Linked DNA regions of Homo sapiens. The protein of the gene in region 2 purifies or fractionates together with the protein of the main gene of each other region. This does not show direct contact. Each region holds a gene or a part of one and is shown on either strand. Other genes may lie near its edges.

Region 1 (3,500 bases), on a different chromosome or scaffold from region 2:
GTGTGTGCCACCACATCTGGCTAATTTTTCTTTTTTCTATACACAGAGTCTCACTGTGTAGCCCAGGCTGGTCTTGAATTCCTGGTCTCAAGTGATCCTCCCGCCTCAGCCTCCCAAAATGCTGGGATTACAGGCATAAGCCACCATGCCCAGTTGCTATTTCTTATCTGTGACCTTGGACAAGTTACTCAACATCTCTGTACTTCAGTTTCCTCACCTATAAAATGTGGGTGAAAGGTTGTACCTACCACATAGCATTATCAGAAGGATTAAATAAGTTAAAATTTGTAAACTGCAATGGTGCCCAGCACATAGTGCGCACTATAGAAGTGCATCCTCTCATTTGGTTCTTATCCTTTAAAAAGTTCTGAAGACTGTACAGTGGGAGGTAGGAGAACTGGGTTTGAATCTTAACCTTGCCACTTACTCACCACATGTCCTTGGGCAAGTCCCTGAACCTGTCCCTGCATTTCACAGGGTGAATATCCACACCTGCTCTGCCCACCCCAATGTGCACTCCAGTGTATCTTCTCCAGCCAAGTCAGCTTCCTCCCCAGCACCCTGATCTTTGTTTCTCCATCTTTAAATGTGATGCTAGGCTCCATTTTGAGCTTGAAAAAACCTCTAGTCCTCCAATAACTTTTTTTTTGAGACAGAGGCTCGCTCTTGTCGCCCAGGCTGGAGTGCAGTGGCGTGATCTCGGCTCACTGCAACCTCTGCCTCCCAGGTTCAAGTGATTCTCCTGTCTCAGCCTCCAGAGTAGCTGGGATTACAGGTGCCCGCCACCATGCCCGGCTAATTTTTGTATTCTTAGTAAAGACAGGATTTCACCATGTTGGCCAGGCTGGTCTCGAACTCCTGACCTCAAGTGATCTGTCTACCTCGGCCTCCCAAAGTGCTGGGATTACAAGCGTGAGCCACCGTGCCTGGCCCCTCCAAGAACATTTTAAAGAACATTTTCATAGGCACTGCATGCCAGGTTTTGAGGATCCAGAGCTGATGGGACTCAGTTGTTGCTCCCAAGGAGCTTACCACTTAGTAGAAGAGTCAGAGAAGTAAATAAACCTGTGCGGGACTTGTCAGAGAAATGAGAAGCCTGTCTAAGTGCTCTGGGCACCTAGAGCTGGGAGATTCAGGGGAGGCTTTTTTAATTAATTAATTAATTAATTTATTTATTTATTTTTTAATTTTATTTTTTGAGACAGAGTCTCTCGCTCTGTCACCCAGGCTGGAGTGTAGTGGCGAGACCTCGGCTCACTGCAACCTCCGCCTCCCAGGTTCATGCCATTCTCCTGCCTCATCCTCCTGAGTAGCTGGGACTACAGGCGCCCGCCACCACGCCCGGCTAATTTTTTTTGTATTTTTAGTAGAGACGGGGCTTCACCATGTTAGCCAGGATGGTCTTGATCTCCTGACCTCATGATCCGCCCGTCTCGGCCTCCCAAAGTGCTGGGATTACAGGCGTGAGCCACCGCGCCCGGCCATGGAGATTCAGGGAAGGCTTTACCAGCTGATGCCTGGACTGAGTTGATGGGGGTACAAAACCATGAAGCAATGGGCAGAGGGATGATCATATCAGGCAGATTGACAGAAATGGCTGGTACAAAGGAGTTGGGCCTGAAAAGGTAAGCTGTGTTCAGAGAATGGTTGAGAGGTGAATATGCCTGAAGTGGGGGTGGCTGATAGGAGGGGTAGGTCAGGAACCTGGAAAGGTGGGCAAGGCTAGAGTAAAGGGCTGTTGGGACACTACCAAAGAGCAGAGTCAGCAGCACCCATACAAGAGGAGGTTGGTGAGTATAGGAGTGGCAAAGCTGTCATTTTTTTGAGTCAGGGTCTCACTCTGTTGCCCAGGCTGAAGGACAGTGGTGAGATCTCGGCTTTCTGCAACCTCCACCTCCTGGGCTCAGGAGATCCTCCCACCTCAGCATCCCAGGTAGCTGGGACTACAGGTGTGCACCAACATGCCAGGCTACATTTTGTATTTTTTGTAAAGACAGGGTCTCACTATGTTGCCCAGGCTGATCTCAAATTCCTGGGGTCAAGCAATCCGCCCACCTTGGCCTCCCAAACTGCTGGGATTGCAGGTGTAAGCCACCATGCCTGGCCAGTTGTCATCATTTTATTAAAATTATTATTATTTCAGAGAAAGGTGGAAAATGAGCTAAAGTCGAGGAAGACCAACATCAGAAAGCTCAGTTAAGAGGCCGCTATAGCCGGGAGCAGTGGCTCATGCCTGTAATCCTAGCACTTTGGGAGGCCGAGGCAGGCGGATCACGAGTTCAGGAGATCGAGACCATCCTGGCTAACACGGTGAAACCTGGTATCTACTAAAAAAATACAAAAAAATTAGCCGGGCGTGGTGACTGGCGCCTGTAGTCCCAGCAACTGGGGAGGCTGCGGCAGGAGAATGGCGTGAACCCGGGAGGCGGAGCTTGCAGTGAGCCGAGATTGCGCCACTGCACTCCGGCCTGGGCAACAGAGCGAGACTCTGTCTCAAAAAAAAAAAAAAAAAATTAGCTGGGCGCAGTGGCGTGTGCCTATAGAGCCAGCTACTTGGGAGGACTGATTGAGCCCCGGAGATCGAAGCTGCAGTGAGCTGTGTTTGAGCCACTGCACTTCAGCCTTGGTGACAGAGTGAGACCCTGTCAAAAAGAAGCTGCTGTGGCTGGGCGCAGTGGCTCACGACTCTATTCCCAGCACTTTGAGAGGTCAAGGCAGGTGGATCACCTGAGGTCAGGAGTTCGAGACCAGCCTGGCCAACATGGTGAAACCTCATCTCTACTAGAAATAGAAAAATTAGGCCGGGCGCAGTGGCTCACACCTGTAATCCCAGCAATTTGGGAGGCTGAGGTGGGCGGATCACGAGGTCAGGAGATTGAGACCATCCTGGCTAACAAGGTGAAACCCTGTCTCTACTAAAAATACAAAAAAATTAGCCAAGCATGGTGGCGGGTGCCTGTAGTCCCAGCTACTTAGGAGGCTGAGGCAGGAGAATGGCGTGAACCCGGGAGGCAGAGCTTGCAGTGAGCCGAGATTGTAGTCACTGCACTCCAGCTTGGGCAACAGAGCAAGACTCCGTCTCAGGAAAAAAAAAAAAAAAAAGAAATAGAAAAATTAGCCGGGTGTGGTGGCGGGCGCCTGTAACCCCAGCTACTCAGGAGGCTGAGGCAGGAGAATCGCTTGAACCAAGGAGGTGGAGGTTGAGGTGAACCTTGATCACGCCACTGCACTCCAGCCTGGGCGACAGAGTGAGACTCCATCTCAAAAAAGCAGACTTCGTTGTTCTGTAGCAACGTGCTACAGAAGAAATGATTGGGACTGGAACTAGGGCTGTGGCAGAGGAGATGGACATGGAGGTAAAATATGTCTCAGGAAGAATTGTCAGGGGTTTTTAGGCTTGGGCAGTTAATTGGCTGTGAAGCGTAGGGAAGAGGGAGGAAAGGGTGGACTATTTCTTGTGTTTTTAGCTTTAGAAAGTGGGGATGAGGCTGGGATAAAGA
Region 2 (3,500 bases):
GTCTGTTCCAGGCCTCTTCTTGGTCTGTTGATGGTGCTCTTCCCCCTTTGTCTCTTCACATCATCGTCCCTCTGTATATGCTCGTGTCCAGCTTTCTTGCTTTCTTTCTTTTTCTGTTTTTTGGAGACTGACTCTTGCTCTGTCACCCAGGCTGGAGTGCAGTGGCACAATCTCGGCTCACTGCAACCTCCGCCTCCTGTGTTCAAGCAATTCTCCTGCCTCAGCCTCCCGAGTAGCTGGGACTACAGGAGTGAGCCACCACGTCCAGCTAAACTTTGTATCTTTAGTAGAGATGGGGTTTCACCATGTTGGCCAGACTGGTCTCGAACTCCTGACCCAAAGTAATCTGCCTGCCTCGGCCTCCTAAAGTGCCGGAATTACAGGCGTGAGCTGTAATAACAGTCATATTGGATTAGAGCCCACCTTAATGACCTCATTTTAACTTGATTACCTCTGTAAATATCCTATCCTCAATATCTCCAAATAAGATCACATTCTGAGGTACTAGGACTTCATTATATGAATTTTAGGGAGGAACACCATTCAACTCATAACACCTACTTTCCCCCTGTGACACACCTGATATAGGATTGTGTAGATTCTCAAACACATCGGGTTATATTATCTCCTGCTGAAAACACTTGGCTGGTTCTATCTAAATAAAGCCTTCAAACCTTCCTAAGGCTGAGTTTCCTTCCACTTTGTTGGAGCAAGTCAAGAGAAAACCAGGAGAACATGCCTAGTCTCCTTTCTCTGAGCCTTCACGCTAAACCTCGGGCAAATAGTGAGAGCCAGTCCTGGTCCCTCACCTCCCTTCCCCACCTCCTCTTTTGGCATCTGTCTCTTAAAGGCATAACTTTTACAGTCTATCTCGAAGAGGTCCCTTATCTGGTGTCCTTAGAGCATGCTGCCTGTACCTGTATACTTATTCTTCCTTGATACTGTTCTCACTTGAAGGATTAGCAGAGTAGACAAGTTTAAGCTCTTGGGGGCAAGGACTCAGGTCTTCAACATGTAGAACAAGGCTTTATATATACTAGGCACCGGAATACCCATTTTAATGGTATTTTTTTTCCTGACTAGGTAAAAATTGGTGTGAAGAAGACATGGAGAATGGAGGATGTGAATACCTATGCCTGCCAGCACCACAGATTAATGATCACTCTCCAAAATATACCTGTTCCTGTCCCAGTGGGTACAATGTAGAGGAAAATGGCCGAGACTGTCAAAGTAAGGCATTTTGTGTTTCAACCACAAGTAGAACCTACAACAAGCAATATAATAAGACACAAGCTTGGATTTTTAAGAATTCTGTCTTAGCTAATTCTTTGAATAGATTTGAGAAGATATCTGCTATTGTATGCCGGGTTATCATGTCATTTCTTTAGAACTGACTTTAACCCATTTCAACATTAAATGAGTTTATAGGAGACTAAAGTGTCAACATACCTTACACTAATTTGTACCTAGTCCCTTAACAGCACTGAGCTAGCCAACTTGCAGGTAATTAAATGAGGCCTTAACATTTTTCCTCAAAAGGAGGAGGACAGAAATTATGCTTAAGGAAGGCCATGGTTACAGAAACCTCATTGCCTCAGTGGGTGACGCTACCCTAAAATAACACTTAGGCTGAATTTGCATTTAGTCTTCTGTTCTTAACTTTTGATTAAGTGGCAAATTAAAGTCATTTGTGTGATCAAGGAGCTTGTATGGTGAGGCTGATGAGGTTTTTATTAGCGTAATTCATGGTCAGGCAGGGATTAGCTCAGTTTACCAAGAAATTAGTTGCAAGACAGTCTGGTATGCCTGGTATACCAGAGCATCTTGAGAACATTTCTCGTAGTTTCCAGGAACATGGGATGTTGTTTAGAGGGATAAAATGTGGTTGTCCATCATTTTGAATTGTCAAATTCCAAACACCGACTGTCCTTCCCAAAGTTTCATGTATCTCTTTTTTGCATGAAGATTGCTATTTCAATGTTGACACATCAGCTGTACAACTTAGTTCAGCAGTGGTTTGTCTATTTTACCTGGTTTTAAAATAACCTTTTACATGGCTTGTCTGGACAAAACAGCTAGCCATGCTGGAACCCTGGCATTAACCAGGTTCTTGGTTTTTATAATTCAGGTACTGCAACTACTGTGACTTACAGTGAGACAAAAGATACGAACACAACAGAAATTTCAGCAACTAGTGGACTAGTTCCTGGAGGTATTGAGTTCAGTACTGCAAACTGTTAATCTCAACTAACAGCCACACTCTTTGTATCTACAGCTTAAATAATTAATGCAGCCTTTAACTACTATTTCTGCCCCAATTGGTAACCTATATTTAAACACCAAAGACTTAAAACTTGCATATCTTTTCCTGACTGATCTTAAAGGTTTCTAGTAGAGAACTGTCAGTGAAATGGCTACTACAGCATGTGACTCAAATACTTCTAAGCCAGAGTTGTTCCTGGTGTTCAATTGTTGTAGATACTGAACATCAATATTGGATGCAAAGGTTTTGGCTCCTTACCTGATGGGTAAATTTCTAAGTCTGAATACAGATCCTTCTAAACTGATTCCTTTTATTCCTCTGTAGGGATCAATGTGACCACAGCAGTATCAGAGGTCAGTGTTCCCCCAAAAGGGACTTCTGCCGCATGGGCCATTCTTCCTCTCTGTAAGTAGATTTCCTACAAGTCTGGGTTCAAGAACTTCTTAGATACCAGATGAAGATTTTTTGTTCATCTGGAGCTACCCCTTTCATGGGCCTTTATGCTGTCTAGCATTTATGACACTGAATTACGTTCGCTTTCTCCCCCACATAATACACTAAATTAAGGCCCATATCTTTCTCTTCAGTTGTACCTTTGGCACAGTAACTGGCAATGATAAGTGTTCAACGGTTAATGCTTTCTACTTCCGCACTGTTAACCTGGCTTATCCCCTTTTATAATAAGTCTCTTTAACTAGTGTACTGTTCTGTTCCCCCTTTGAAATGTGTGTAATGCTTCATACAGAGGAGATGCACAAATGCTTAAATGCTAAGAGTTACAGGACTTGTTGAGGATAAATTAAAAGCAGTTAAGAATTTTCAAACCTATGGAAAAGGACCTCTAAACGAGACACGCAAATTCTAAGGACTTTGCTATAAAAACCTTTGTCCTAAATGAAGAGACCCAAGCTTAGCTAACACGCCAGGACCACCTGAATAGCTCTCCAGAACCTTCTGCAATTTTAATTTGGTGAGCCTAAGGTGGGACCGAGGACCCTGCCCTTGCCTGGATGGATGTGGCTAGTCCAGCTCCAGTGCACAGAGCTACCTCTGGGCTGAACTTGTTTCAAGCTCCTGGCCCATGTGTATTCCAACTTCTAGTTATCCTAGCTCCATAAAACATGGCATTTTTACTAATGTCAATTATTATGGATTCCTGAACGTTATTACCTTTCTTGTATGTTCCAATACTAGACTTAGCTCACTTAGCTACCCTCTGATTTTTTTCAGTGCTCTT

The links. The genes of interacting proteins can lie anywhere in the genome.
Region 1: the proteins of VLDLR (region 2) and SYT11 purify together in Homo sapiens (co-immunoprecipitation; one large-scale study listed by IntAct). This does not show direct contact.

Annotation. Positions count from the first base shown.
Region 1 is NC_000001.11:155,876,567-155,880,066, reverse strand, and holds part of SYT11 (synaptotagmin-11), read right to left. Parts: intron 1-3,500. UniProt on the Homo sapiens protein: Synaptotagmin family member involved in vesicular and membrane trafficking which does not bind Ca(2+). Inhibits clathrin-mediated and bulk endocytosis, functions to ensure precision in vesicle retrieval.
Region 2 is NC_000009.12:2,649,287-2,652,786, forward strand, and holds part of VLDLR (very low-density lipoprotein receptor isoform a precursor), read left to right. Parts: exon of another isoform or gene 1-1,083; coding exon 1,084-1,230; exon of another isoform or gene 1,231-2,128; coding exon 2,129-2,212; exon of another isoform or gene 2,213-2,587; coding exon 2,588-2,668; exon of another isoform or gene 2,669-3,493; coding exon 3,494-3,500. UniProt on the Homo sapiens protein: Multifunctional cell surface receptor that binds VLDL and transports it into cells by endocytosis and therefore plays an important role in energy metabolism.